Linked DNA regions of Homo sapiens: regions 1, 3, 4, 5 and 6 are each reported to be linked to region 2. Evidence: microRNA targets listed by miRTarBase, many of them from high-throughput screens and not tested one by one. Region 2 holds a microRNA gene; each other region holds the end of a gene's coding sequence.

The links. The annotated mature microRNA hsa-miR-3121-3p reads UAAAUAGAGUAGGCAAAGGACA and lies in region 2 at 2,494-2,515, shown strand. An mRNA with a match to its seed (bases 2 to 7 or 8) in the 3' UTR can be bound and repressed. Matches are read on the target gene's strand: a 7mer-m8 pairs with bases 2 to 8, a 7mer-A1 pairs with bases 2 to 7 and ends in A, and an 8mer does both.
Region 1: miRTarBase lists CMIP as a target of hsa-miR-3121-3p. Seed matches in the 3' UTR shown: 7mer-A1 at 1,019-1,025.
Region 3: the mRNA of ADM is a reported target of hsa-miR-3121-3p. Seed matches in the 3' UTR shown: 8mer at 1,125-1,132.
Region 4: miRTarBase lists WWTR1 as a target of hsa-miR-3121-3p. Seed matches in the 3' UTR shown: 7mer-m8 at 1,100-1,106, 7mer-A1 at 1,386-1,392, 7mer-A1 at 3,708-3,714 and 7mer-m8 at 4,336-4,342.
Region 5: miRTarBase lists PPP1R9A as a target of hsa-miR-3121-3p. Seed matches in the 3' UTR shown: 8mer at 54-61.
Region 6: miRTarBase lists IFNAR1 as a target of hsa-miR-3121-3p. Seed matches in the 3' UTR shown: 7mer-A1 at 511-517 and 8mer at 3,633-3,640.

What each region holds. Positions count from the first base shown.
Region 1 is chr16:81,709,324-81,714,397 of GRCh38, forward strand. It overlaps CMIP (c-Maf inducing protein), which reads left to right. Exons shown (of 21, transcript NM_198390.3): 21 at 423-2,439. The coding sequence ends at 476. Among named protein-coding and RNA genes, the nearest start is that of PLCG2, 67 kb to the right of the region's middle. RefSeq lists enhancers at 2,216-2,898, 3,581-4,262, 4,263-4,943.
Region 2 is chr1:180,435,764-180,440,837 of GRCh38, reverse strand. MIR3121 (microRNA 3121) reads left to right here and starts at 2,448; the gene lies at 2,448-2,524. All of the region lies in intron 3 of ACBD6 (acyl-CoA binding domain containing 6), which reads left to right. It also overlaps the pseudogene VDAC1P4.
Region 3 is chr11:10,306,214-10,311,287 of GRCh38, forward strand. ADM (adrenomedullin) reads left to right here. Exons shown (of 4, transcript NM_001124.3): 4 at 119-1,184. The coding sequence ends at 428. It overlaps CAND1.11 (a long non-coding RNA gene), which reads left to right and starts at 2,100. Exons shown (of 4, transcript NR_103765.1): 1 at 2,100-2,460. RefSeq lists silencers at 469-763, 1,101-1,200 and an enhancer at 1,701-1,970.
Region 4 is chr3:149,516,635-149,521,708 of GRCh38, reverse strand. It overlaps WWTR1 (WW domain containing transcription regulator 1), which reads left to right. Exons shown (of 7, transcript NM_015472.6): 7 at 720-4,474. The coding sequence ends at 904. Among named protein-coding and RNA genes, the nearest start is that of TM4SF4, 44 kb to the right of the region's middle.
Region 5 is chr7:95,289,777-95,294,850 of GRCh38, reverse strand. PPP1R9A (protein phosphatase 1 regulatory subunit 9A) reads right to left here. Exons shown (of 20, transcript NM_001166160.2): 20 at 1-4,760. The coding sequence ends at 4,548. Among named protein-coding and RNA genes, the nearest start is that of PON1, 32 kb to the left of the region's middle.
Region 6 is chr21:33,355,204-33,360,277 of GRCh38, forward strand. IFNAR1 (interferon alpha and beta receptor subunit 1) reads left to right here. Exons shown (of 11, transcript NM_000629.3): 11 at 113-4,661. The coding sequence ends at 346. Among named protein-coding and RNA genes, the nearest start is that of IFNAR1, 33 kb to the left of the region's middle.

The DNA of each region.
Region 1 (5,074 bases), not on the chromosome of region 2:
ACATTTGGTATTTAACCCCTAGCACCATCCTTTGAGCCAGGGACTAGAGTCAGATGGGCCCACAGAGGAAGAAACTGAGGCCCCTAGAGGCTGGGTTATCTGCCCACGGTCACGCAGCAGCAAGTGGCAGGGCCTGGATTCAAACCCCAGTGCTTCCACCTGCGAAGACAGAGACCAAAGGCCATCTGAGGCGGGGGCATGGGAACCCCGCTGCCTGGTTTCTCCGGGGCCAGGGCACATCCCACCTGCTCTGTTCTCTGCCTAAGGCCACCCACCCCTCCAAGAGCCCAGGTAGCCCACAGCACCAAGGTGGGGAGAGGGTGGCAGAGACCCCCAGCCGGCAATGCGGGTGGAGCCAGGCACTGGCAGCTTCTGCAAGGGAATGGCCTACACGTGACAAGGACTCTTATTGCCACCCCCAGGCCAAGCTTCCCAATTTGAAGGAAGTGGACGTCCGCTACACCGAAGCCTGGTGAAGCTCCCAGCTCAAGGCAGGAAGACGTTTGCAACCGCGACAAAATAACTCTTGACTAACAGCCGCAGAGCAGCCGGTCCTGGGGTCCCACCCTGGTGCCCTGGCTGTGAGATAGATGGGGAGTCTTTCTGGGGGCGGAGGGGGGAGGGGGTGGGGAGGGGGCCCACAAGCACGCCCAGCCCCCGCCGAATTCTTTTAGCTTCGTAATTGGAACCTTTGACCTGATCTAAAGTGGACTTTGTAGCAACAAGAGGAGCATCAGCGGGTCGGGGAGGGGTTTGGGGGTGGGCTGGGGGGTGGGGGACCCTTTGTGGATTTTCTTTGCCTTTGTGTTTGATGCCGTCGTGTGGGAAAAGTCAACTCCGATGCCACCATTGCGGGCCGGACGAAGGATGCTTTCTTCCTAGAGGCTCCGAGCTGAGCTGCGAACTCGCCCCCCGCCCTTGGGACAAGAAGACCCAGTCACATCACTGCACCCGTCCTGTGTCCTCACCATTGCTATGCAAAGTGATTCTTGTTGTACATAAGATTTAAATAATGCACCTATTTAAGACATGTTGACAAATTGCGGGTCTGGGACCCGCCTCTTATTTATGAAGTCTTTGACCGTCCCCCCCGCCCGACCCCACCGCCCTCCCGCCCCCACCTGGCGTGTAGTACTGTATAAACCAGTCAGCTGTCGGGTTAGTGGTAGTATTATTGTTATTTTTTTAAAGGAAACAAACAGACAACAAAAAGAAGAAAAAAAAAAAGAACCTCCTTGGAAAAATTAATTGCTTTTTCGTAATGGATTCTCTATGCTAATGCTCTCTCGTCTGTCTGTCTGTCTGCCCACTCCCCCACCCACCACTGTGCGTTTCTGATTTCCAAATGTCTCCAACTCCCTCACGAGGTGGGGCTCAGGCTGGAGGAGGAGGGATTAAGATCCCCTTGCTCCACTAAGGCCCAAGCTCTTTCTCTCGGCACCTTTTAGACTTGAATGGGAGGCTGCTAACCCGCCCTCTCCAGTCCACCCCGGTAAAAGAGCTGTTCCCCACCCCCAGGGAGCTCCTGTCCCTGTCAGCCTTTGCTGTCCCCTGTCCCCAACGGAGACTCTGTCACCCCTGGGCTCCCCCTGCCATCGTGTGCTTCACGTGGCCCCATGCATGCCCGCCTCTCTGCATGGTCTCTTGGGAAAAGAGAGATGTGTCGCCTCCGCCAGTCCGACTGCCCTCCCCACCCCACCCCCGCCACCCCCCACATGTGACCACTGCAACGAAGACACTCCTTCTGTCCCCACCTGCTCCGAAGACAAACCAACCTCCGTTTCTTTTATAAACAGTCGGCTTTTTCTTAATAAGCCCTCACTGTACAGAACAGCCCGTTGATGGTTTATTTGGGGTCCCCCTCTCCCCCCAGCCCTTTTTTCTGTTGGTTTAGCACAAATACTTCCCTCCTCCGGCACCTCCAAACCTACCCCACAGTCAGTGTACTTGTTTTATATATATTTAATCTTATTCAATGGAAACCATGCTTTTGTCGTTTTATACTTTGCTAGGTAGACTTTATTACCCCCCCACTATGCCCTCATTTTTTTAAAAAAGGAAAAAAAAAAGAAACTGGGTTCCAGTCTTAATTCATTTTCCGTGCCAGGTTTTATTTCGTGTGTGTGTGAGTGTGTTCTGTTTTGTGTTTTGTTTTTTGTTGTTGTTTTTAGTTGTTTGGTTTTCTTTTCTTTCCCCCCTCCGGTCCCATACTTCACAGCACTCTGGTGCGGGAAGAAGCAGAAGCAAAAAAAATAAAAATAAAAAAATAAATAAAAATAAAAAAAATAAAAAAGGAAAAAAAAAAAAGAAGAAACAAGACATGCCACCTTTCCCCTCGCACTGTTGCTTTTCCTGATGGTTAATACTACTGTCACGTAGCTGTGTACAAAGAGATGTGAAATACTTTCAGGCAAAAATAAACTGTAAGTGACTCATCAATGTCTGGCCTTTGTGTGGTTTCTCGGCGCCCAGCGGGAGAAGGTCCAAGGAGGGGGCGAAGCCCAGGCGGGAAATCTGAGGCTCAAGACAGTGCCGGGATGCCCTCGCCACCTTCTGTGCGCACTTCCTGAGGACCAGGGCTCAGCATCCTGGCTGCTGTTGGCCACTGGGGCCGGAGCTGTCTTCGTTGCAGGGGGGCTGTTGTGTTCATTGCCAGACATTGAACAGCATCCTTGGCTTCTACCCAGCAGTAGCACCCCTTCCCCATTTATGACAACCAGAGTGTCTCCAGATGTTGCCACGTGTCCCGTGGGGGGATAGTTCGCTCCCCAGCTGAGACTCCGTGTCATAGACTGAGGTCAGTGCTGCTGTTCAGCAGGGCCTTACGAAAGCTGTAGCCCAGAGCTACTCCAAGGAATGTGCCTTCCATCCACCTAGGGGGTCTTGTGAAAACGCAGATACTGACGCCATAGCGCTAGGTGGTGCCTGGGAATCTGCATTCCTGACGAGTTTCCAGGTGATGCTGTGCTGCTGGTCAATGCCAGGTTCCTAGACCCACACTTCAGCTGCCTCCTCCCCCTAGATGTCTCCAAGAGGCAATCTTGACAAGTCCAAAAATAAATGCTTTATCTTGGCCAGGCACGGTGGCTCACTCCTGTAATCCCAATACTTTGGGAGGCCGAGGCGGGTGGATCACAAGGTCAAGAGATCGAGACCATCCTGGCCAACATGGTGAAACCCTGTCTCTACTAAAAATACAAAAATTAGCTGGGCGTGGTGGCGTGTGCCTGTAGTCCCAGCTATTCGGGAGGCTGAGGCAGGAGAATCGCTTAAACCCGGGAGGCAGAGGTTGCAGCAAGCCGAGATTGCGCCTCTGCACTCTAGCCTGGCGACAGAGCAGGACTCCGTCTCAAAAAAAAAAAAGTAAAGAAAAAATGCTTTATCTTCACCCCTCTTCCTAAACCAGTCACCCTTCAGGGTCCCCCAGCTCAGCAGGGGTATCCTTGTCCTCAGCCCAGGCATGTCCTGCCTCCACATGCTGACAGAAATCCAGGATGTCCACGAGCCAGTCCTCTGCCTCTCCACCATGGGCCCGGCCCGAAACCAGCTCTCCAGAGACTCTGTGTCTGGAGTTGCCCCCTGCCAGCCCCCACCGTCCCCACACCATCCAGCTCCCTCTGCTACCTGCCCCACCTCTCTCTATGCCCTGGTGGCCTCCTTCCAGAGGCCTCTGCCAGGTCTTTTTAAGACAGGTGAGAAGGCTGGGTGCGGTGGCTCATGCCTGTAACCCCAGCACTTTGGGAGCCCGAGGCGGGTACATCACCTGAGGTCAGGAGTTCGAGACCAGCCTGGCCAATGTAGTAAAACCCTATCTCTACTAAAAATACAAAAATTAGCCGGGTATAGTGGCCCACACCTGTAATCCCAGCTACTGAGGAGGCTGAGACATGAGAATCACTTGAACCTGGGAGGCGGAGGTTGCAGTGACCCGAGATCTCGCCATTACACTCCAGCTTGGGTGACAGAGTGAGACTTCATCTCAAAAAAAAAAAAAAAAAAATAGTGTCAGTCACTCAGCGGCGCCTTCCTCAGGTCACACGGAGAGCAGGCGCTATGGAAAAAGGACAGGAGGGCTCTTGACTGCGGGGGTGAGAGGCCTCACCAAGGACATCAAATGAACAGTCCAAAGAGCCCTTGGCTGCCTGAGCTCCCATCCTCAGGCCAGAGGACCAGCTAGTGGTATAGACGTGTGCATGCGCGAGCCAGACGCTTCAGCCTGCTCCATGTTGCCTTCTCCACCGGCGTAGGGCCTGGCTCACCACAGGTGTTCATTGCTCCAAGGGTTGGGGGAAGATGTAGCCGGGGGCCACTCTCAGCCTTCCTCCCTGCTCTGCCCCGCAGCAGCTGGGCTCCTCTGCCCACTGGGTGAAGCTGGAGAATGCAGGCTCCCCGCTGGAAGAAGTAGGGGGTGTCTTCCCTGGCATCCCAGCCGCTGTGCCCGTTGCTGGCAGGAGTTGCCTCCCTCCGTGGGCTGCTCACCAGGATTCCAGCTTTCGAGGTAACACAGCTCCCTGTCTCGCCCCTTCAGCCTTAGCCTGGGAACTGCCCCTCGCTGGTTCCTGGGTGCCTCAGCGTCCCTAACCCTGCCTGCACCTCTGCGATGCTCACACCTGGCCTGTGCCTCCTCCCAGCTGCACTGAGTTACACCACGTACTCCCCTCGCCCTTCAACCCAGGGGTGGTGATAGCTCCCCTGGTTACTGGTTACTGGTTCCTGGGTTCCCGGGTGCCTCTGCATCCCTTGCTAATTACCTAGCCTGGAGCCCCGCCCACCCTTCATAGCTAGCGCTTCTTTCCTTCTCTCCAGAATTCTCTTCTCTCTGAGGGGTCTCTGCGAGGACCTACCTCAATGACCATCCCCCACCTCCAAGTAAAACCAGCAACTGTTGGTGCCAGCCCCAAATGGGCCCAGTGAGAGTCCAACAGAGATCTAACCCCGTGCTGGGGACAGCGGTATTAATTCAGAATTTTTTTTTTTTTTTTTTTTTTTGAGACGGAGTCTCGCTCTGTCGCCCAGGCTGGAGGGCAGTGGCGCGATCTCGGCTCACTGCAAGCTCCACCTCCCGGGTTCACGC
Region 2 (5,074 bases):
AACCAAGTGAGAGGCCAGACATGAAAGATTACATAGTGTATGATTCAATTTATATGAAATATCCAGAATGGTTAAATCCATAGAGACAGAAAGCAGATTGGTGTTGCCAAGGTTTTGGGGGAGAGGGGAATGGGGAGTGACTGCTTAGTGGGTTCAAGGCTAAAGGTTTGGGGGAGAGGGGAATGGGGAGTGACTGCTTGGTGGGTTCAAGGCTAAAGGTTTGGGGGAGAGGGGAATGGGGAGTGACTGCTTAGTGGGTTCAAGGCTTTTTGGGGGGAATAACAAATATGTTGTGGAACTAGATGCAGTTGGTTGCACAATATTGTGAATGTATTAAATGTCATTCAATTGTACATGTTAAACTGGTTAATTTTATGTGAATCTCATGTCAATACAAAAAGAAGTAAACGTGAAATAAAGACTTTTCAAGGCTGGATCTGGTGGCTCATGCCTGTAATCCCAATACTTTGGGAGGCTGAGATGGGCAGATCACTTGAGGTCAGGAGTTCGAGACCAGGCTGAACAACACATTGCAACCCCATCTCTACTAAAAATGCAAAAATTAGTCGGGTGTCATGGTGGGCATCTGTAATCCCAGCTACTCTGGAGACTGAAGCAGGAGAATCACTTGAACCCAGGAGGCAGAGGTTGTAGTGAGCTGAGATTGCACCACTGCACTCCAGCCTGGGCCACAGAGTGAGACTTCATCTAAAAAATAAAAATAAATAAATAAAAACTTTTTCCAAATAAACAAAAGCAGGTAATTCATTGCCAACTGAACTGAACTATAGTAAATTTTAAAGGAACTTCACATGAAAGGAAAATTATATAAGATGGAAATTTGGACCTCCATAAAGGAATGAAGAGTCCTGGAAGTGCTAAATATATGGGTAAATTTAAAGACTTTTTTTAAATTTTAAAATCTCTTTAAAAGATCACTGAACTTCCAGTTTCAGCCTCAACATGTGAAGAACCTGCAAGTTATCACTCCTCTCCTTAACAATAACAGTAATCTGACCAAACTGAAAATCAAAGACTGTTCTAGATCCATCAGAGATTGAGGTACCAGTTCAAACTGCCATCCCCAAAACTGGAGAGACAGGTGAATACAGAGAATCATAACCAAGATAACAGAAGATGCTTGGGCCATAAACTGGTAGAAACACTTCAATGGTAATGGATGAATTGCTTGAGGCTGAGTGTGGACTAGGGAGTCAAAAACTCCTCCCCAGTATTTTTTTTTTTTTTGAGACGGAGTCTCGCTGTGTCGCCCAGGCTGGAGTGCAGTAGCGCAATCTTGGCTCACTGCAAGTTCTGCCTCCTGAGTTCCACCATTCTCCTGCCTCAGCCTCCTGAGTAACTGGGACTACAGGCGCCCACCACCATGCCCAGCTAATTTTGTTGTTGTTTTATTTTTAGTAGAGACGGGGTTTCACCATGTTAGCCAGGATGGTCTCGATCTCCTGACCTTGTGATCCACCCGCCTCGGCCTCCCCCAGTGCTGGGATTACAGGCGTGAGCCCCCACACCCGGCCCCTCCCCAGTCTTAGTAGGGCCTTCCACTTTGGTAGGTTTTATCTCCCAGAATCCCATTTACGGTAAAGAGTCAAGAAAAATCTTGTGTTTTGGGCCAGGGGAAGGAGCATATAGTTAACACTACTGAGTTAAATACCAAAAATGGTTAAAATGGTAAATTTTATGTTTACAATAATTTAAAATTTTTAAAAAGAAATGAGCTATTAGACCATGAAAAGACATGGAGGAACCTTAAATGCATAATGCTAAGTGAAAGAAGCCAATCTGAAAAGGCTGCATACTGTATGAGTCTAATCATTTGACATTCTGGAAAGAGTAAAACAAAGCAGTGAAAAGATCACTAGTTGCCGTGGGTTCAGAGTATGGAGGAGAGTGGGGAGGGAGGGAAGGGTGAATAGGTAGAGTACGGGATTTTTAGGGCAGTGAAACTATTCTGAATGGTACCGCAGTGGTGGGTACATGTCATTATATGTTTGTCAAACCCATAGAATGTTCAATACAAGAGTGAACCCTAATGTAAACTATGGACTTTCATTAATAATAGTGTATTAATATAGGCTCATCAGCTGTAACAAATGTGCCACTCAATGCAAGATGTTAGTAATGGGGGCAGTGGGTGGGAGAGTTGTATACATGTGAGAGGTATGAGATAACCCTATTTTTTGTTCATTTTTCTGTAAACCTAAACTTGCTTTAAAAAGAAGTCTAAATAAAAAAGAAAAAAGAACTATACTTATTTTTTTTGAACTACCACGTAACTCTTAATTAGTAGTCTTTATTTCACAGCAAATAATTACCAAGTGGACCATAGCTATCTCTTCCCAATTGTCTATTTCACTTTAAGAGAGTCAATGAATGGCGCCAATAGAAGCTATGATTGTCTCATGAACAACCTTGTCTTATTGCTTCTTAAATGGTTATGTCCTTTGCCTATTCTATTTAAGACACCCTGTACCTTAAATAGAGTAGGCAAAGGACAGAAACATTTTAAGTTCTCTAACACAGCAGTCCCCACCCTTTTTGGCACCAGGGACTGGTTTAGTGGAAGACCATTTTTCTGCAGCAGGGATTAGGGGGCCAGTGTTGGAGGGGGATGGTTTCAGGATTAAACCATTTGACTTCAGATCATCAGGCATTAGATTCTCATAAGGAGTGCGTAACCTAGACCCCTCACATGTGCAGTTCACAATAGTCTTCACAGTCCTGTGAGACTCTAATGCTATTGCTGATCTCACAGGAGGTGGAGCTCAGGTGGTAATGCTTGCTCAACCGCCACTCATCTCCTGCTGTGCGGCCAGGTTCCTGACAGGCCATGTATTGCTACTGGCCTGCAGCCCAGGGGTTGGGGACCCCTACTCTAACATTCTGTGCATACCCTCATCATAGGGCCTTTGCACTGGCTTTTTCCTATGGCTGGAACAATCTACTCCAGATACCTGCAAGACTCACTTCTTCACTTCCTTTGTCTTTATTCAAAGGGCCTTCTCTAGAAGGCTTTCCCTAACCATCTTATTCCAAATTATAACCTTGTTCCTGGACCTGTTTTTTTTCTTCATAATACTCCTTAGGTTTTAATATTGGAAAACTTATTCATTTATTGTCTGTCTCTGTCAGACCTAACCTGATTTTTGTGTGACGATTTTGTATCCTGCAACTTTGCTGAATAACAGATTGGGTGGAATCTTTAGGATTTTTTTACATATAAAATCTTGTTGTCTGTGAACAGATAACTTTACCTCTTCCTTTCCAATTTGGATGCCATTTTAGGAAAAACTTTCAAACTGTGTTTTTCCTCTGCTCTCATACCACTACAACAACAGAAGACTTCTGTGACCAAATACGTGGGGATTTCTCCCCAACATTATGTGAGCAGTTCTGCAGCAGACACCAACTGGGTATCCTCCTAATCAGTTCTGACACTAGGTGCCTAGAGATAGTGTCAGATTCCACAGGTTGAGGACTCAGTCCCCAGGACTGCCTCCCACCCCTTGACCAGTCACAAGCCCCGGTCTCCAGAATTTCTTACCAACTGGCTTCAAGTTGTGGTTCCCATGACCCCCTCTTTGGGTTCAACTGAGTTCTGGAGTGGCTTACAGAACTCAGGGAAACACATTTGCCAGTTTATTATAAAGGATGTTACAAAGGATACAGATGAAGATGTCGAGGGAAAAAAGCCAAACTGCAAAGTATTTGAAGAGATTTATTCTGCACCAAATGTGAAGACCATGACCCATGACACAGCCTCAGAAGGTCTTGAGAACATGTACCCAAGCTGATGGGGTTATAGCTTGATTTTATATCCTTTAAGGAGATATGATAGCATTAACATTGGCCTGGATACCATCTTGAATAGAAGTGATGAGAATAGATATCCTTGCCTTGTTCCTGATCTTAGAAGGAAAGCTTTCAGTTTTTCACCACTGAGTATGTTGTTAACTGTGGCCTTTTCATATATGGCCTTTATTATTTTGAGGTAGTTTTGTTTTTGTTTTTGTTTTTTGAGGTTTCAATATTTTATTCAGGTTTTTTTAAAGTGATGTTAATTACAGCATTTGAAGGGGAGGATCTAATTCCACACAAAATGGAAGACTCTAAAATGTACCCATTAAACTGCTAAAAAACAAATTGAGTGGTGAGAATACAACAGAAGTCCAATTTAGATTCTGAGTGTTGTCACCATGTGATTACAATCATACAGACACTTCTAAGCTTATAGGTGGAGCTCCTGGAAGCTATTTCATACTCTGGTGCAAGGGCAAAAAAACACAACGCAAGAAGGAATAAGTCCTGAATTATTGGCTTTATCACGTCCACCCTCTCCACCCCAAAATGGCACAAAAGAATCGTGACCACACCACTCTGCAGACGTTTTGGTGTAAAAGAGGTGACGATGAACTGGGGTGGGAACAGGTCATGAAGATATGTCTAAAAAAAATCCCATTCAGGTGAGTTTGTACACACCATCAAGTAGTGAGCTTCTCATCAATTAGGGTTAGATAAACAAGGTTCAATTCTCAGGAAATCACAATTTCTTTCATTTACTCAATATGAATTTACAAAGTGCCTACATATTATCAGCTTCCACTTGCAGCCATTTCTAGATAAAAAAGAAACCTGATATCTCAAAGGGGCCACCAAGTTACCCCCAAGTCTACCACTGAAAGGACCTTTTTTGGAAATGGTTTTCTTCTGTACCTCTGAAAGGGTAACATCTTAAAGCTGAATCATCTTTAACCTGGAGGTCTAACATATTTAGCAATACTTGCATTCCAGACGTACAACATTAAACGATACAGTAAATTCTGAAGGTAGCTATGCTGCAAAATAGTTTAAAATTAAACAATTGTACAGTATTCATTTATGCTTGAAATTCCAGGCCTAAACCAAGCTTGTGGCCACCACCATTGACGTTCTTGCCATCCAGAAGAGCTGACAGTGTCAATTTGATACCTGGTTTTAGGGTCTGAGTGTATCCTAAACCCATCAGGCTGGAGTTATTCACTTTAGCCGAGAAGCAGCTGTCAGAGTCAATCTGATA
Region 3 (5,074 bases), not on the chromosome of region 2:
GCGCGAGCAGTTTCCAGCTCCCTCTGGCTCTAGAATGGCTCCCGTTCCCGGTGTTGGGGCCAAAGCTCTGCTTGATGGGGTCTCAAGTTGCCTTTCTTCCCCCTCCCCCCGCCCGCAGCAGTCCGGATGCCGCCCGCATCCGAGTCAAGCGCTACCGCCAGAGCATGAACAACTTCCAGGGCCTCCGGAGCTTTGGCTGCCGCTTCGGGACGTGCACGGTGCAGAAGCTGGCACACCAGATCTACCAGTTCACAGATAAGGACAAGGACAACGTCGCCCCCAGGAGCAAGATCAGCCCCCAGGGCTACGGCCGCCGGCGCCGGCGCTCCCTGCCCGAGGCCGGCCCGGGTCGGACTCTGGTGTCTTCTAAGCCACAAGCACACGGGGCTCCAGCCCCCCCGAGTGGAAGTGCTCCCCACTTTCTTTAGGATTTAGGCGCCCATGGTACAAGGAATAGTCGCGCAAGCATCCCGCTGGTGCCTCCCGGGACGAAGGACTTCCCGAGCGGTGTGGGGACCGGGCTCTGACAGCCCTGCGGAGACCCTGAGTCCGGGAGGCACCGTCCGGCGGCGAGCTCTGGCTTTGCAAGGGCCCCTCCTTCTGGGGGCTTCGCTTCCTTAGCCTTGCTCAGGTGCAAGTGCCCCAGGGGGCGGGGTGCAGAAGAATCCGAGTGTTTGCCAGGCTTAAGGAGAGGAGAAACTGAGAAATGAATGCTGAGACCCCCGGAGCAGGGGTCTGAGCCACAGCCGTGCTCGCCCACAAACTGATTTCTCACGGCGTGTCACCCCACCAGGGCGCAAGCCTCACTATTACTTGAACTTTCCAAAACCTAAAGAGGAAAAGTGCAATGCGTGTTGTACATACAGAGGTAACTATCAATATTTAAGTTTGTTGCTGTCAAGATTTTTTTTGTAACTTCAAATATAGAGATATTTTTGTACGTTATATATTGTATTAAGGGCATTTTAAAAGCAATTATATTGTCCTCCCCTATTTTAAGACGTGAATGTCTCAGCGAGGTGTAAAGTTGTTCGCCGCGTGGAATGTGAGTGTGTTTGTGTGCATGAAAGAGAAAGACTGATTACCTCCTGTGTGGAAGAAGGAAACACCGAGTCTCTGTATAATCTATTTACATAAAATGGGTGATATGCGAACAGCAAACCAATAAACTGTCTCAATGCTGATTCATTCTCTCGGCTCGGCTCTCACGTCTAGGAAGGGAGGGTGCCCTGGTCCCGGCCCGCCCAGGAGCCTTGGGGTCCCGCCGCCGGGCTTGGGAAGGTGGGACAGCGGCGCGTGCAGGTGCTGGCCCTACTCTGAGCGGGCTGAGCTGTCACGAGCTCTGTTCTCTGTGTGGGGCGCGCAGAACACGTGTCCTGGGTGCGAATCAGGGCTTCGCGGAGACGCCCGAGGTCACCGCCTGGCGTGGCGGCCGGCGGGGGGTGGGTAGGGGGAGCCCTAGTGGGTTGGCGAGCCTGGACTCTCGGGTTGCGCAACGGAGTCCTAGATTTATAGGGTTGCTCACAGAACCCGGCGCGAAAGCGAGCTTCGAAGAGTTGGGGTGGTCTCTGAGGCCTTCTAAGAGAGGCGTTCCCCCTGCCTGCCGCGGTTGTTAAAGTTCCAAGCCGCCCTAGCAATGCGTGGGGACACCTCCGGAAAACCCAGTAACCCCTAGTAACCCCGGGTCTGCCCGGGCCTGAGCGCCCGCGGGCCGCTGGCTCATGGGCGAGGCTGTAGCGCCCCCTGCAGGCAGCTGAGACAGGCCCAGCGCCGCCAAGCAGTACGTGCGGTTTAATAAGTTCTCCTACGTGGGAGTCAGCACACAGCCTTAATGAAAGAGGAAAGAAAGAAAAAAAAAAAGAGAGAAAGAAACAGTTTGCAGATGCCAACCAGGGCCGTCCTCCTACACCCCCCAGACCTGCACCGCGGCTCCCTGTTCTGGGACAGTGACTCAGCGCCCACACGCTGCGCTGCGTGCAGCTGCCGGCTGGAGGCGGGCAGGACGGACGTGCCGGCGGAACCGTGAGCCTCCGACGGCCTGAGACCTTCATTGTTCCGCCTCCCCTAGCCGCTCACCTCTTCCTTCCTCCTTCCCAAGCCTTTTTTCATTTTTTTCTTCACTTTTCTCCAGCCTTCCTCTCTCTCTCTCCTTCCTTCCTCCTTGCTTTCTTTATATGCCTTATCTTCTGAGAAGGTTGACCCCAGTTCCGGCGATAGACGGACACTAAGCCCCCCTTGAGTGACTAGAAAGGCAGGGGACATAGGAACAGTTAGGACATAAGGGAAGAGTAAAGAGAGGGACCCCTGATTTTGATTTCAGGGTGCCCTGTTTGTCTCATCCAATATCCTGAAGACCCAAGATGGAGACCAGCTACTTGTCCCTTCCAAAAAGCTTCCCTGGCCTTAATGTCAGTGCTTGTAGGTGATCTCAGAAACCTCCCTGGTGAAGAAAACCTGAAGGTGAGTTTGGAGAATGGAAATGTTTCCAGGGTAGCCTACGGCCTTCTGGGGCTTTTGCACATTACAGGGTCCCCTCCGAGGGGCTAGGATGTTTAGTTTCTTGCAGAAGAGGACTGCATACCCACTGAGAGAGAGGGGCCCTACTCTGGGGTCCAGAGATACCTCATTCCAAAGCAGTTTCAATTTAGAAGAAAGTAAACTCGAGTACATAGAATTTCCTTAAGACCATACAAAACCTCAGTTTGGGCACCTGGCTGTTGACAATGCCAATCTCATATAGTTTATTGTCCTGTTTGATCTTAATAATTGTGTGAGGTGTGCCAGAATTGAGGAGGTTAGAAATGCAGCTACAGACCATTCTTGTCCTCAAGGGCCTTTCAGAAAAAGATTCACTTTGTGGGAACTCTGTGCCAGGCACTGAGAAGGTACCAGGCATGTATGAATGAAAGAGTGACTCAAGATTCCTGTCATGGAATTTCTGTGCCAGTGAGTGGGTTCTGGGTGGTCTGAAGGGGCTACAGAAACTGCAGAGAGCAGCAAACACTTAAGCCTCGCAGACAGTGGCGCAAGATTACTCCTTTCCTTGAGCCAAGGTTGTCCTGTAGCCACAAAGCACTCCAGCCAAACCTCACCTTGGCACAGCGTCAGCCAGCAAACAAAGCTGCCAAAGGCAGGTTGGGCACAAGCTTCGGGCGGTTGTGAGCAGGGAACAGGCGTCTAGCCTTGTGCTGAGGAAGTCTTATGACTTGAGGGAATCCAAGGCAAGTGAAGGAGATGGTTCAGCCCTAAGACAAAAGAGGCAGCTGCTCAGCTGGAGTCCTTCCCGCTGAGAATCCTGTGACTGGAGACATGTGCGAGGAGACAGAGACCCTCCTAAGACCAGTTTGGTATGAGTTCAGGATTAACCAAAGGTCACCATCAAACCCCGGGCTCTTCTCTTTGAGGTGCTGAAGCTTATCAGGATAGGGACTATTGATGCCAAGAACACATTGTTTATCAACAGTGATGAGTCATTTGTGAGCTGATTCGACCTGTCCACAGCTGAGGAGTAGTCACAGCTTTTATCTTTAGCTACTGTTGCTTGCTGTGGGAATGATACCATACATTTGTAATCAAACACGGGGTATCAGGCAATTTCTTGAAAAGCCAACACCTTGGCTGAACAGCCAAGGGTGAAGGGGAGTGATGGGGAGGAATGGAAACAGATTCCTTTTTTAGCACTTGCTTGGTGTCAGATATTCTCTTTGCCACTTTATACACCTTATCTCATTTAATTCTTACAACAGCCTTGTGAAGTAGGTGTTATCTGTTTATTGATAAGGAAACAACCTCAGAGACATAAAGTAACTCAGCCAAGGTTACACAGTGAATAATAAGCGGTGGAGCCTGGATTTGTACCCAAATGCTACAGGCTATTTTGATCCTCTAAAGGCATATGGAGTAAAGTGGGATAATTTTAACGTTTAGATTCTCCAGCCAAATGTCCCCAAATGTCCTCTAAAACAGGGATAGCTTGTATAGGTGATTCACACCTGTGGTTCTGAAAGATTTACATGAGGGCTGGTAGAATAGGGAAGGAGAGCTGCTTCAAGCAGTAAGCTCAATGAGTGCAAAATAAATAAATGAACTGAGTTTTAAATTCTTGGTCTTGGTTTGAAGAAGGGATTATAAATCAACCTTTTTCCTCTCCTGAGCTAAGCCACTGACCTCTTTGGTTTGAATTGCCAAATATAGTTAAAATATACACTGAAGCTTCAAGAGCTGGTTTCGGGGGGGAAGGCCTTCTGAGCTATTCCTGGCCAAATACAGCCCCACACTGTAGGTCTTAAGTCGCCTGGAAGAACACCTGTGTCTACAAAACTGCAAATAGAGTTTCCACCCTTGAGGTGGGATCTTTTGTCTTGGCAACTGCTGCTCAAGGCACCTTTTTAGAGGATGTTCTGAACTGACTCAGAGAGAGAGAGAGAGAGAGAGACAGAGAGAGAGAGAGAGAGAGAGAGAGAGAGAGCGCTATGACATAAGGCCCCTCCTTTCCCCAGCTGAGAAGGAGAAGGCCTTGTTATCCTGAGTCTCACAGAGGTTTCTGCCAAAGCCAGGCTGGAGGCTTGGTCTTCATGTGCATGGGAAGAAGGGTGAGGCTAGATAGCTATCTGGTGGTCCCACTGGTCTTGTTCCAGAGCTATTTTGGAACATTCTGGAAAAACAATAAAATGACTGTGGCCACACAGGCAGCTGAATTTAGTAGGTTTTTGTACATTTATCCAACATTAGGAAAGTAGTTTTGAGTATTAAGATACAATTTTAGAGCATAAAAAATGCATTTTACTTATTTACAATATTTATTCAGTGTAGAAGAAAAAGATTCACCTGCAATACTACTTTCAGAGATAACCACTATTAATATTTTAGACATTTTAATCTTTTATTTATTTATTTATTTTTTTAGAGACAGGGTTTTGCTCAGTTGCCCAGGCTGGAGTGCAGTGGTTTGATCAAGCTCACTGCCTCAGACTCCCAGGCCCAAGCAATCCTCCTGCCTCAGCCTCCTGAGTAGGGGTGACTATAGGCATGATGCCTGGCTAACTTCCTTTTAGACATTTTTATGTATTATACC
Region 4 (5,074 bases), not on the chromosome of region 2:
TACAGCATTTTCTCACCTGTGTTCTGTAGAACTTCAGTTTTATTTGAATACACATACTGCCAAAATAGGTTTAGGTGATTAAATGGGTTTAGGAAATAGTGTCTTAAAGAAAACAAAAGATTTCTTTACTCTAAGACTTAAAGCCTTAACATGCTCATATGCACTGTGCTCATATGCTTGTGAGAAAGGCAGATAGTTGTAGGGTGTAGGTATTACAGAAAGAGGGAAAACGTCTGCAGAACTGCCTTTATAAATGATGCCTAAAGTCATCAATGAAGACAACTTTTTAATAGCCTGGTTAAAAGAAGCTTCACACCATTCTCTTTGAACATAAAGAAGGATGGTATGGGTAAACCTAAGCTTACAATGAAACCTGTAGATTATAGTTCTGTAATAAGCTGTTTATTACAGACAAGGCCTCTCTACTCTTTTGTAAAACAGTTCTTCACACCTTTGTCATGGGAAGGCACAGATCATAGATCAGATCCACAGTGCCTTTCACATGCTCCTTTCTTATCTCCTTGGCCTTTTCCATTCTGGACCACACCTATCCAGAAATAATTTTCGATTTCTTCCACATCTCTGTACCTCTTATGAGTAAGGGTCAATAATGTGGTAGTTGAAGACATGAAGGTGAGGGTTATGTAAATACTTGAACTGTTCCTCCTTCAAGAGCCTAAAAGAAGGAATTAAAATGGTTTCTTTTCATTTTGTTATAGGAGAAAACGCAGGACAAACACCCATGAACATCAATCCCCAACAGACCCGTTTCCCTGATTTCCTTGACTGTCTTCCAGGAACAAACGTTGACTTAGGAACTTTGGAATCTGAAGACCTGATCCCCCTCTTCAATGATGTAGAGTCTGCTCTGAACAAAAGTGAGCCCTTTCTAACCTGGCTGTAATCACTACCATTGTAACTTGGATGTAGCCATGACCTTACATTTCCTGGGCCTCTTGGAAAAAGTGATGGAGCAGAGCAAGTCTGCAGGTGCACCACTTCCCGCCTCCATGACTCGTGCTCCCTCCTTTTTATGTTGCCAGTTTAATCATTGCCTGGTTTTGATTGAGAGTAACTTAAGTTAAACATAAATAAATATTCTATTTTCATTTTCTGCAAGCCTGCGTTCTTGTGACAGATTATACAGAATTGTGTCTGCAGGATTGATTATGCAGAATACTTTTCTCTTTCTTCTCTGCTGCCCCATGGCTAAGCTTTATGGGTGTTAATTGAAATTTATACACCAATTGATTTTAAACCATAAAAAGCTGACCACAGGCAGTTACTTCTGAGGGCATCTTGGTCCAGGAAATGTGCACAAAATTCGACCTGATTTACAGTTTCAAAAACTGTATTGATGACAGTAGTACCAAATGCTTTAAAAACTATTTAACTTGAGCTTTAAAAATCATTGTATGGATAGTAAAATTCTACTGTATGGAATACAATGTAATTTTGAATCCATGCTGGCTCTGATGGCTCTTATTAGTCTGTATTTATAAAGGCACACAGTCCTATTGTAGCTTATCTTTCGTTATTTTACTGCAGAGCATCTAGACAACTTAGTCCCTCCAGCGGGAAAGTAGCAGCAGCAGCATTAGTCACAGGTCTTACACTACAGATCTTGTGAAAGAGACCAGTTTGGTACTAATTATGAGCATTTTATTCAAACAAAAGTTTTTGAAATATTACAACTGGGGATTTAAAAAATTGCAGCTTAGAATCTGATGGTTTTTTTTTTTCTTGATGTTGTTTGTTTGTTTTTGAGATCGAGTTTTGCTCTTGTTGTCCAGGCTGGAATGCAATGGCACAATCTCGGCTCACTGCAACCTCTGCCTTCTGGGTTCAAGCGATTCTCCTGCCTTAGCCTCCCGAGTAGCTGGGATTACAGGCACCTGCCACCACGTCCGGCTAATTTTTTGTATTTTGAGTAGAGACGGGGTTTCACCATAATGGTCAGGCTGTTCTCAAACTCCTGATCTCAGGTGATCCACCCATCTCGGCCTCCCAAAGTGCTGGGATTACTGGCGTGAGCCACCGCACCCGGCCTTGATGTTTATTTTATAAAGCACTGTAATTTTGTAGCTGATGACAAAAGGCAGCCAAATGTTTTTGATAAATCAGTGGCAACTGTATTTTTGTCTTTTGAAATAACTCTGAAAACATCAGGACAACATAGATTTCAACCTGATAGCACACCACACACAGTGAGCTGTTGCTTTTTAAATTCTGAAGCCTTGTCAGGTTTGCTTCCTAGATTTCAAGTGTTTAAAATAATTCTATCTATGAAACTGAAGGATGAAGCAGATCTCTGACTGACATGTAAAAAAAAATGCCCTTTGAGGGTGTATGGTGGAGATAAATGTTTCTGAATTCAGTAAAATTGATTCCTAAGTATATTATCCTAATCCTGTTTGCTACAGTTGGTATAAAAAGGCATGAAATATGTATTCAATACCTCTTATGTAACCAAAACCATTTTTAATTAGCTTTTAAGGACTGAGAGAGCATCATGTTCAACTGGCATGCAGTCTGCCTGCATTGCCAATGAAGTCCTCAACTGTTTAATATTTTGAACTAATATTATTTATAATCTATGAATTTAATCTTTTTTGAAAGACTTTAATAATTTGAGTCTCTGAGAGGATACTTTCAATTTCCATGGGGGACTTATTTGTTGGGGATCTTAAATAAGATTCCTTTTGATCTACCGGAATATACATGTACAGAGTACATTGGATCATGTTGGAAAGAAGGCAAGTGAAAAGGTCAGAGATGAAGTAGCAAAGTTATGGAATATCGTGGAAAGGATACTAGTTGTGAAATGGAAAGAGACAAGTTATAGTACCCCAAAAGCAAAACAAGCAGGAGATGCAAGAGATGCCCCAAAAGGACAAAGCAACAATTTTCTGTTGCCACCTTTATACCGGAAGACTCTGTTGTAGAAGAAAAGAAGGCTTTGGTGCACCTTATGTGGGAGGAGGAGGGGCAGGGCATGCTGATGCTGAGCGTACAGGCAGACAAGAGCGTAGCCTGCTGTTGCCTCCATCACTATGAAATGACTTATTTTACCTGAAGGACCCATGGTTTATGTTCCTCTAATTCCTTTCACTCTCCCTAAGCCCTCTGAGAGAGATGAAGATAGATGATTTTATTGCTACTAAATTGAAGGGAGCACTATTTCTTTTTGTCTTTTGTTAGCAAAAAATTGCAAAAAGAATTGTACATTCTTGCTAAAAATAAATAAATAAATAAAAAATTAAAAAAACAAGGGACCTAACAAAACTCAGCAGTGTTACTGTATTTTTAAAAAATATTTTTATAGACTCATTTTCAGGTTATTAAATGTAAGAGAAACAGATACCCCTCTTTTTTAAAGTAGGTAAATCATTGATGATTTATATTACCAATTTTTAGAAGTAATTTTCTAGTAAGCTTGTGGCATCAGAAAATACTAGAAGATTTTTTTAGTTAAATTAGTTAGAACATTTATGAATGAATATAATAAATATTTTTTCAGAATAAAATATGGACCCTTTGTGTTTACTAATAGATAAAGCCAGATATAATTTTTTGTTTTTAAGGCCACAAAATATGGCCTTTGTTAAAGAACACTAAAGTTAGAAATCTAAAGTTAGAGCAACTTTTTAATGGCTATTTCCTATTATTGTAAGTGTTAAAACCCCTGCAGAATTCTTGATAAGGTGCTATTTATACTATATTTCTTATTATAAGATAACTGTCTTTAGTCTTCTTAGTACTAGTCTTTTTAGTACTAAATCAATCAGTAAACATCATCATTTCACCCCAAAATTTTGTCACAGAAAAGGCGTATCAAATGAAAAATAATTTCAGAGATCTTTCTTTCAAGATATTTTTTCCTGATAAAATACATTGTCTTGAAGTAAATACATTGTCAAAACCTAATTGCAATTCTGTTAAATCTAAGTAATTTTTAGACAGTGTTTCACCGTATTATTTAGGATGTGAAATGCCATTTCTTTCACTGATTACACCATATACAGGAAACAGGTAAAACAGTGAAAACTTTATTGTGCTGGTTGATGCCAACTTGGTTGAAAAGCTCTCTGCAGAAGAAGTGATCTAGACTGACAGAAGTGTTGCTAATTACAAGTTGTGTTCTCATGACGTAATTAGAAAGTAACTTCTCAAAGTACAACTTTTATGAAAAAAATAAGCTGTTAAAAAAAGGAAATCGTAGGTTAATTTAATTGGGAAAATGGGCAATTGACAGAGACCATTTTCCTAACACATATATGTGCTAGTACTTTAACTTTTTAAAATTTTACTTCTACGTTTTGTAATATAAAAATTTCTATTTTAAGTTTAGAATGTTATACGTACCGAAAGTATGCAGCCAAATCGATCAGATCAAACCATTTTACCTGGAGTTTGGTACTGGTTTTTACTTCTCTGAATCTGTATAAGAAAAATAAAGACAATTGAACTTCCACTTGGAGCTTTTGACTTTTCATTATTTGTCTGTGTTCCTTTTACTAGGGGATTTGGGTGGTACTGAAGACAGGCTTATGTAACCCTCCTGGCAGACAATGAAAGAAAGAAAAATCTGCAGGCAAACAATTTCTTGGCTCACGTGCCTGGCCTTCAACATTCTAAATGTTCACAGAATTCTAGTTTCCACTTTATTTACAATGTCCACTGAGGTTTTTAAAGGTGTATATATACACCTTTAAAAATAAAAACATATACCTTTAAATATATATATATCACATCATTGTCCTCCCAACACCCTCACAGATTTGACAAGACCATCAAAAATACAGGATTCTTGCTGGGCACGATGGCTTATGCCTGTAATCCTGGCAATTTGGGAGGCTGAGGCGGGAGCATTGCTTGAGCCCAGCAGTTTGAGACCAGCCTGGGTAACATTGTGAGACCTTGTCTCTACAAAAATATATAAACATTAGCCAGGTATGGTGGTGTAGAATATACAACAAACTCTTATAAACCAATAGAAAAAACAAACAGCCCAATAGAAATATGGATCAATAATGTGAATGGAAAGTTTATAGAAGATGAAACTGGCTGGTGA
Region 5 (5,074 bases), not on the chromosome of region 2:
AATAGGCCCACATAGACACCACGGACAAGCAAATAAGGACCCTCTGTCTACCATAAATAGAACTTGATGCTTTCACTTTCCAGGAGAAGCTGATTCTGTCGGCTTTCTCTTTGCCCCTCCAACTTCTTAGTTGGGCCTATTCTATGCTGCTACTTCAAGTTACTCAAATGTGTTTTGTCTGGTGTTATTTTTTTCTCCAGTGTTTTGGACCAAGACTAGATTTCCTGAGACTTTAAATACGCAAGACAAATGCAAACAAAATCTGCCAACATACCCAGGCTGCTTTTCAGGAGTGAATCACTGAAGCGCATTTGGATTTCCTATAACACTACTTTCTTTTGGGAATGTACAGCCCTCCCCCAGCTCCCCATCCCCCATCATAATGTAAACCATTCTAATAGAAAATATGGATGTTTTGGCTGGGGGTGGTGGCACATGCCTGTAGTCCCAGCTACTTGGGAAGCTGAAGCAGGAGGACCACTTGAGCCCAGGAGTTTGAGGCTGCAGTAAGACATGATGGCACCACTGCAGTCCAGTCTGGGTGACAGATGACAGAAAAAAAAAAAAAAAAAGAAAAGAAAAGAAAATATGGACATTTTATTTCTGGACTTTATCCTTAAATGCTTAGCTTTAGAATAGTGCACAGGTACATCCTTAATAAAAAGTAAATTTGAAAAGACAGGAAAGGACTGTGCTTTTCTCTTCCATTTTACCTTTTCATTCTGAGACCACTAAGGTCTTTGCATTAAGTAGGTGACGTGAACCCTAGTGACCACTGCCCACCAAAATGCCCCTCATCTCCAGCTCTGTCAGGAGTACCTTTAGTTACTCAAATGGAAATATCTCAGTGTAATGATGGGGCTACAACATATCCAAAGTATAGATGGTTCTCTCAGGGCTGCTGGGGCAGCTTCCTTTAGAATCCTCTAGAACACTATTGTTAAACACTGGATCTCCTCTTGAAGTTTAGTCTGCATAACCTTTAACACTTAAACATGAATCAGAGTATCTATATAAATGCAAATTTTCATTTCCCTTTTATAAAATGCAATTTTCAAGCACATGCTAATTCTGGTGCACAATGAACCCAGACAAATTTGTCTTCAGCACAAACTCTAACGGCCGAGGTGCTAGATCAAACCACCTGTGACCATTTTTGTAGCTTGGGACTGGGATATTTTAAGATTTCAGGCTAGTGATGATTACAGGGTCACAGATAGTGGCAAAGGTAAATCTGGTTCCTCATTTTCCCTCTTGCCACTTTGTTTCCAACAACAATGGAGCAAAAGGTGACAGTCCCATTTTGTGCCAGTTGAAAGCTGAGTTTGGCTTTAGTACCTATCATACTGCAATCATGAACTGCTGTGGGTTAAAAAAAGCTTGTGATGTTGAGGGTGTGAAATCAATTGTCAATCCCAGCTAAAGGATGATAGCCACAGAACAGCTTTATTGTCATGAAACTAAAGGGGGACTTCATCAGGAGTGTTAGAATGGATGAAATGAGGTTTCTTCCCTAACTTAACATTCTGCAGAAAATTCCTGATTCAGGTAAAAAAAGAATGAGATTAGTATTACATAAACTGTGAGTTACTTGAAGGGAGATGGTCTTAAACAAAGTAATCTGTTATAAAACTAACATCCTTTAATGGGAAACCCTGACCCAGATACAGCTCATACAATGCTTTCTGTCTGCAGCTTGGCCTCCTCACCACACATTCCCTCCCAACAAAGCATAACCTATACCCCAAAACACTTTTGGCTATTGTTAGAATCATACTGAGCTCTCCTTTAGGGAATCAGTTCATAGCAACCAGATATTCCCTTTTTGTTCATTTTCTGATAATAAAAACTGCAGTTTTTAAGGTTGATGAAATAACAATTCTGTGTTAAATTGTAAGGACACTGAAAACCACTAGCATTAAAGTAGGAATTGTGCAAGACATTGGAGCCTTGATTAGGTATCATGCACTACAGTCAATAAAAGAAATAATAGGAAAACAAAATGTGCACAAGATCTGAGGTCTTTCACTTTGCTTTCATACCCTTAATCAGTTTACATCTTATGCTTTGTGGGGCAATCAAACCAAATGACTTTTACAATTTCATCCGTTTTAAGTGGTAATGTTAAAATAACTCACTTCGGCCTAAAATTACTATAATTTAACTTAAAAAATCAAAATACTTATAATACTAAATGATTTTAGGAATAAGAATTTGATTTATAACATTGTCAGTTGGACATTTATCTAAACATTCAATATACAAAGTTATAAAGAAAAATACTTCTAAGATATTTAAGAAAATGCAATATAATAGATCATAAATTAGGTGCAAAAACAAGACACTTACAGACATTTCCAGTATATACATCCATTTTCAAATATTACCAAAGTGTAAACATAACTTAAGATAATCATCCTTCTATTTCTACTCTTGAATACAGTGAAACTTCCAGTGTGATCCAGGTCACTTTTTTCCCAAAGATAAGCAAAAATGGCAAAAATTTACAATAGCAAGCACTAATATTACCAGATTTTTACTAATTTAGTGTTTTAGTATTTGAAAAGTTTTGCCAAATTGTATCACTCATTAATAGTGGCTTCTTATTTCTCATGATGTGAAAAAATAACAAAGCACCAGACATCTCAAGACATTAATAGAGTATCCAATACGGCAGTTTCATTATCATACCCCTAATGAAGACAGACAGAAAAACATAATGGTGACTTTGATAACTGTAAAACACAATGTTACTTCATGTCAACGTTTCTGAGGATTGAATGAAGGGTCTGTACCTAATGACAAAAGAGCTGACGCATAACCGACAATACTCTGGCAATGAAAAGAAAACAGGCCTTGGGGGTAAAACAGAATTAAAAATGTCCAGTTTAGATAATTTCTGAATTCAGATTTTCAGATAAAAAAAAATCACACTGTTATTAAAATACAAGATGGGGCTACAAGGGAGTTCCCTTAATCTGTTACACTCAAAAGCCTTGCCGAGGCTCTAAATATGGAATACTTCTAGTGGAAGATACGAGATGCTGGGAACAGAGCAGAGATTCCCATAAAGTAAAAGAAGTAAAATACTGTCCAAGAATTCATGTGGCCTCAAGTCTTATTCTGAAACTTGTCCTTTGGAAAGTGGATAACCTCATTTTTAGAGTCAACGCAGCAAAGAGAACCAGATACATGAGCATAAAAAACAAAAAACCCTCATCACATGAAATTTCTCAAAACGAGTTTATTTTCTCCTTCTTCTGCCCCAGTCTCCTGCACTTGACTTAGTTTGGTGAAACATGGAAATCCTTAATGCTGGCTTAAAATTAGTATAAGTTCCTCCACTACTAAAGTATACCTATGCACTGCCTTAAACAAACTTTTTCTGTAAAATTGAGAATCTTTGAAGTATGGAAAGGAATGGTTCGGAAAAACCATTCAAAATCTCTCTAAAATGTTAACTGACAGTTTCCTCTAACTGGTATTTCTATTTTTCTTAAAAGTACATTTGTTAAAATACTAACTGAGCCCACCTGGGAAATCTTGAGTAGAAAATATGTGATGAGTTCCTGATTGTGACATAGGCAGGCTGAAGACCAGCCAGAATGTTCCCCAGGAGAGGAAACCTGAAAATGGTGGTTTCCTTAAAAATCAATTTCCTGTTCAATTTCTTGGGTTAGGTAGGGGGAAGAGGAACTGTGTTGTGTTTGCCAGTGTTGCTGAAATGCTGAACACACAGCAGTAGCAAGGTCAACAGATCCCAATATCCCATGGCTGCATTAATGTCTGATTTTTTTCTTTCTTGTTCAGCCGTATCTAGAGGATAAATATTACCCTCAGAACCCCAAGGTAATACCCACATCCACATTCTTAAGGCTTTTGCTTTTTTCAGTGGTTAACAAATAGCTATAATTTATTTTCTTTCTTTTTGATGCCTAGCAAGCAGAATGACTTGCTTGCCTTTTCCCTTAGTAGGTAACTACAGAGCAGAGCACCCATGTTTCCACAGCGGGGTGGTCTCACTGTCCAGACTGAGAATTAAGAGCAAATCTTTCCCACACATTGGAGTAGGTGTTGCAGTCCTAGAAGTTAAGTACTGGTCTCAGATCTCATGGCAGGGTGCTCTCTGCCATGCAGACATGTGCAATTGCCATTTCAGGATCCCACACTGAAAATTCACGGCGCTCCATTAACAACACCAGGGTGTGTCATGCTCTTGGGTGGGGTCACACTAGTTCTCCAAGTGACAAAACACACCCAACACAACACAAGATGTTGGTAAGTTAGAGAAGAGCAAAACACAGCTACTTAAATGAAATCTCTGGTTTGTTAATGAACCAAAGGTGGCTTGGGATTATTTTAGTAGTTAAAATTAAGAGTGCATTCTATTGCAGAAAATGCAGTTATTCAACACACAGTTCCTCAGCCGGCCTAGAGCCGCATTACCCTTATCATTTAGTTTCTTTTTCATCCTCTGGAGGAGAGCAGGGCAGGAAGAGGTGGGGACTTCTCTTGGAGCATCTCCATCATCTGTAAGAGGGTATGTGTTACTGCTCACCAGCACCCTCGGCTGTAGTTGACGTCATCTTTTCTGTCTTTTTGGACTTCCTCTGCATTTGCTCTTGCTCCTTTCTCCTTAGCTTTTCTCTTTGTTTTTCCATTTTCTCTTGGGCCTTCCGAGCCTTCTCTAGAGACATCTTCATTTCCTTGAGTTTCTTTTTGACCACTGCTCGGTCCTGGGATGCTGTCATTCCAAGAGCCTAAGAAAGAAACACACACACAAACTGAATTTGAAAACCAATGAGCCCTCTGATGGTGTTAACATACCATATATCCAAGTTCGTAAACTAATTCAAACATTGAAGAGGTAAGAACAGAGGAAGAACTAGTTACATTTGCTAAAAACCAACACACTGGGGGCTACCCTTTATTTTTTCTTTTGTTCTTTGAAGTCCCTTGCAAAGTATACCCTAAAGCTCATTAATTAAATGCTTTCCAAATGAGTAATTAATGGGTGAATGAATGGAAAAAGGGCACAATTCTACTTCTCCAACCTTTGGGCTGTAGGCATTTA
Region 6 (5,074 bases), not on the chromosome of region 2:
AAGATAGGTTTTCTCAGTAATGGATGTAAGAAACTAAAGCTATTACAACTAGAAAAGGAATTTTTATTATTTTAAATAATTGATTTCTACTCTTTCCCTTTTTTTAAATTAGTATTTCTCTGAACAGCCATTGAAGAATCTTCTGCTTTCAACTTCTGAGGAACAAATCGAAAAATGTTTCATAATTGAAAATATAAGCACAATTGCTACAGTAGAAGAAACTAATCAAACTGATGAAGATCATAAAAAATACAGTTCCCAAACTAGCCAAGATTCAGGAAATTATTCTAATGAAGATGAAAGCGAAAGTAAAACAAGTGAAGAACTACAGCAGGACTTTGTATGACCAGAAATGAACTGTGTCAAGTATAAGGTTTTTCAGCAGGAGTTACACTGGGAGCCTGAGGTCCTCACCTTCCTCTCAGTAACTACAGAGAGGACGTTTCCCTGTTTAGGGAAAGAAAAAACATCTTCAGATCATAGGTCCTAAAAATACGGGCAAGCTCTTAACTATTTAAAAATGAAATTACAGGCCCGGGCACGGTGGCTCACACCTGTAATCCCAGCACTTTGGGAGGCTGAGGCAGGCAGATCATGAGGTCAAGAGATCGAGACCAGCCTGGCCAACGTGGTGAAACCCCATCTCTACTAAAAATACAAAAATTAGCCGGGTGTGGTGGCGCGCGCCTGTTGTCTTAGCTACTCAGGAGGCTGAGGCAGGAGAATCGCTTGAAAACAGGAGGTGGAGGTTGCAGTGAGCCGAGATCACGCCACTGCACTCCAGCCTGGTGACAGCGTGAGACTCTTTAAAAAAAGAAATTAAAAGAGTTGAGACAAACGTTTCCTACATTCTTTTCCATGTGTAAAATCATGAAAAAGCCTGTCACCGGACTTGCATTGGATGAGATGAGTCAGACCAAAACAGTGGCCACCCGTCTTCCTCCTGTGAGCCTAAGTGCAGCCGTGCTAGCTGCGCACCGTGGCTAAGGATGACGTCTGTGTTCCTGTCCATCACTGATGCTGCTGGCTACTGCATGTGCCACACCTGTCTGTTCGCCATTCCTAACATTCTGTTTCATTCTTCCTCGGGAGATATTTCAAACATTTGGTCTTTTCTTTTAACACTGAGGGTAGGCCCTTAGGAAATTTATTTAGGAAAGTCTGAACACGTTATCACTTGGTTTTCTGGAAAGTAGCTTACCCTAGAAAACAGCTGCAAATGCCAGAAAGATGATCCCTAAAAATGTTGAGGGACTTCTGTTCATTCATCCCGAGAACATTGGCTTCCACATCACAGTATCTACCCTTACATGGTTTAGGATTAAAGCCAGGCAATCTTTTACTATGCATTAAGACCTCTGATTCAAAACTTATTAGAACAGTAGCTTCTGCTGGAATTTGCAATCACTGAAGTCATAGAAAATAGGTAACTATCTAATTAGAGAAATAATTGTTGTATTTTAAGATCTGAGAGTGTGTACAAGTTTTAGTATACATGCCATGCCAGAAGATAGTGTATGCAAGAAGTCTTGGGACCAGAAAATGGCAATGATAGGAGACTGACATAGAAGAAGAATGCTTCCCTAGGAAAAAGGTCGCTGGCTTTGGTGCAAGAGGAAGAAGAATGTTCCACTGGAAGCCTGAGCACCTAATCAGCTCTCAGTGATCAACCCACTCTTGTTATGGGTGGTCTCTGTCACTTTGAATGCCAGGCTGGCTTCTCGTCTAGCAGTATTCAGATACCCCTTCTGCTCAGCCTGCTTGGCGTTAAAATACAAATCATTGAACTGAGGGGGAAAAATGTAACTAGGAAGAAAAACCCAATTTAAGAAATTACATAATGCTTTCCAAAGGCACCTACAACTTAGTTTTAAATTACTTGCTACTGGGGATTACCCATGGATATCCTTAATAGGCAGGAAGTCTGGGAATTCTGGTGGCCTCTAGGGCAGTGTTCTCACAGCACCGTTCCGACAGGGACCAGTGAAAGAAAAGAGACAAAGTTAGAACGTGCTGGGGAGCGGCCATTTCTAAGGCCAGTCTGGTTTAAGTAGTCATTTCTGCTGAAAAAACAGATGATCCTGGTGGAAGAAAAGGTTGAAGGCAGCTGCCCTCGGGAGGGCTGTGATGCTCGGCACATCCTGCCTGGCACATACACGTGTCTGCAGGCCACACCGTGCATGTCCCCAGACCTGCCGCCTGGCTTCTGGAGTGCTTCAAGCAGAGCATGGTGGGTCATTGAGGAGACCCAGGAATCTCATCTGAGAACCCACTCTCTGCCGGAGAACCCCATGGTGACACATTTTCATCTTTCTGACCAGAGGCTGTTTTTTTTTTTTTTTGAGACAGTCTCATTCTGTTGCCCAGGCTGGAGTGCAGTGGCTTGATCTCGGCTCACTGCAACCTCGCCTCCCGGGTTCAAGCAATTCTCTGCCGCAGCCTCCAGAGTAGCTGGGATAACAGGTGCCCACCACCACACCCCACTAATTTTTGTATTTGTATTTTTAGTAGAGATGGGGTTTCACCATGTTGGTCAGGCTGGTCTTGGACTCCTGACCTCATGCTCCACCCGCTTCGGCCTCCCAAAGTTCTGGGATTACAGGTGTGAGCCACCGTGCACGGCCGGCCTGACCTTTGGAAAAGCCTTGTCACTTTGGACGTTTGCGTCTTTGAAGAGGCGATGGGAGCATATCATGACTGCCTGCCACCATTGCTTTTCAGACTACCACAACTCAATCATGCTGTCCAGGACTTCTGGCCCTGTGTTCACCACTGGGAAAACGTACTTCAGACTGGATAGCCTAAAAAGGAGCAATGCCCTTGTAGGATGTGGAGAAGGGAAAATACGGACATTAACATTAAAAGACACCAGTGAAATTGTTAGGTCTCTAGGAAGTTGGAGCACAAGGCTTCACGCTTTAAGACCATCTGTGGTTTTCAGTGAACAAGCGCTGAGCACCAGCAGCAGAAAACAACAACAAAAAAACACCTCGTTTTTACCTTGTCTTCTAGACATGAAAAGGCAGTTGCATTCCACTCTGCATTATGTTCTACATGTTGCTTTATCAGTATATGCTTAGCTGTAAGTGACAAGTATTTTTTCTGAACAGAAGTTTACTTAGAAATACCATGCACTTGGGGGTACCAATTAACCGCCTGAAAATTAGCATATTGATAGTTCTTAGAGAGACCAGATATAATCTAAGAATTTATATGAAAGATTTGTATCATTAGAGCCAGAAATAATTTTATATTAATATATAATACAGATTAACATTATATATAATATGTACCTGTGTCACTTCTGACATGAGCCTGTAAACATATATTCATATATGTACCTGCACATGTACCCACCTGATGTAGGTCTTATTCCTTTAGTATGGACTTAAAGTACTTATTCATATACCTTGTAACTAAAAATTAGAACAGCTCCCTAGAATTGTGAACTTTTAAGAGTCTGACTAGAAATTTGCAACTTATAAAAAAGTTACTTTTAAAAATATAAGTTAGGGCTAGGCACAGTGGCTCATGCCTATAATCTCAGCACTTTTGGGAGGCCAAGACAGGAGGATCACTTCAGGCCAGGAGTTCAAGATCAACCAACCTGGGTAACATGGCCAGACCCCATCTCTATTTATATATATATATATAAAACTTAGAGTTTTTATCTTCCCCTAAAAGAGGCCGTGATATTTGCAGCAGCCTCAAATTGCTCTTAAGGGGTTTAGGTGTGCAGAAGCTTTCCTTTCCCTACCCAGTAACCATGTGACTACTAACGTGGTATATTGATTTATTTTGTTTGCTGTCTGTCTCCCCTGCCCCACTGCTGGAACAGAGGCTCCAAGAAAACAGGGACCTTATTATTCATTACTGCATCCCCAGTAATGAAAGTACTTAGAAAATAATTATTGAATGAATGAAATCTAAACTGTGAACCTGAGGGTGTTTGTGGCAGTGTTTGTTTTACTGAATTGTAGAAGGACATAACCGTGTTTTCAGTGTTTCTATGGAACAAACTTGTACATTTTATTTCACTTGTGTTTTGTCTTAAACCCTACTGCTGGAAACAATTTTATGTAATAAGCAATGGGCCCAAAAGTCTAGGAGTTTTTTTGTACTTAGTGAATTTGTATGCAACAGAGATGCTGCAGCTGATGCCTTTAAAAGGTATTCATCATGGAAGAGCTGAGGCCTGTGCTTGGTGTTCCAGAGCCCAGGGTTGAGCATCCTGAAGGAGCCACTGCAGCCGTCACTGTCCCCAGAGCCTGTGGAGATAGAGCCTGTTTGCTGCTTTTTCTTCCCGCTCTTAAGACATGGCTGGAGCTCAGTCTTCATTGAATGAAGTTTGCTGTGGTATTGCATAGCCTTGCTTTCTTGAACTAAACTGTTTGCCCTTCACAAGTAGTTCTTCTTTCAGGATTAGTTCGTTCCAAGGAGGCTCTTCAGTCTCACAGATAAGTAGATCTCTCCTGCTGTCTGGACACATTTCACTCGGAAATTGAATACAATTTGTATTCAGGCTGGGAACCTGAACACACACTTGTGTTTTTAAGCTTCCCTTTTTTACAGTGGACAAGGACACAAATAATAAATAAATCATCCCTAATGCCCAAGAAATGCCCTGGTACTTAGTAATAACAAAATACCAGTAACTTCCAGTTGTTTCTCACTACCTTTTTTCTTGAGTAGGATGATAATAGAATTACAACTCTTGAGGGCAACATAAATATAGGTGGATATTTGTGGTATGATATTGATGGAAAAATAGCAATCTTTTTCTTTACCTGAGGGGAACAAAGGCAAGAGGAGAATTCGATAGTTCTCATAACAAAGGATTTCTGAGTTTTCCTCCCCTTTCTGTGATCTGTCTCCACTTGGAACTCATGTTCTAGCAAAGGACATTTTGTGGGTGAAGAAGTGATTAATGATTAGGATGAAGAAAATGTTGGCAGTTCCAGCCTGGCCAACATGGTGAAACCCCGTCTCTACTAAAAATACAAAAATTAGCCAAGCATGGTGGCATGTGCCTGTAATCCCAGCTACTGGGGAGGCTGAGGCAGGAGAATCGATT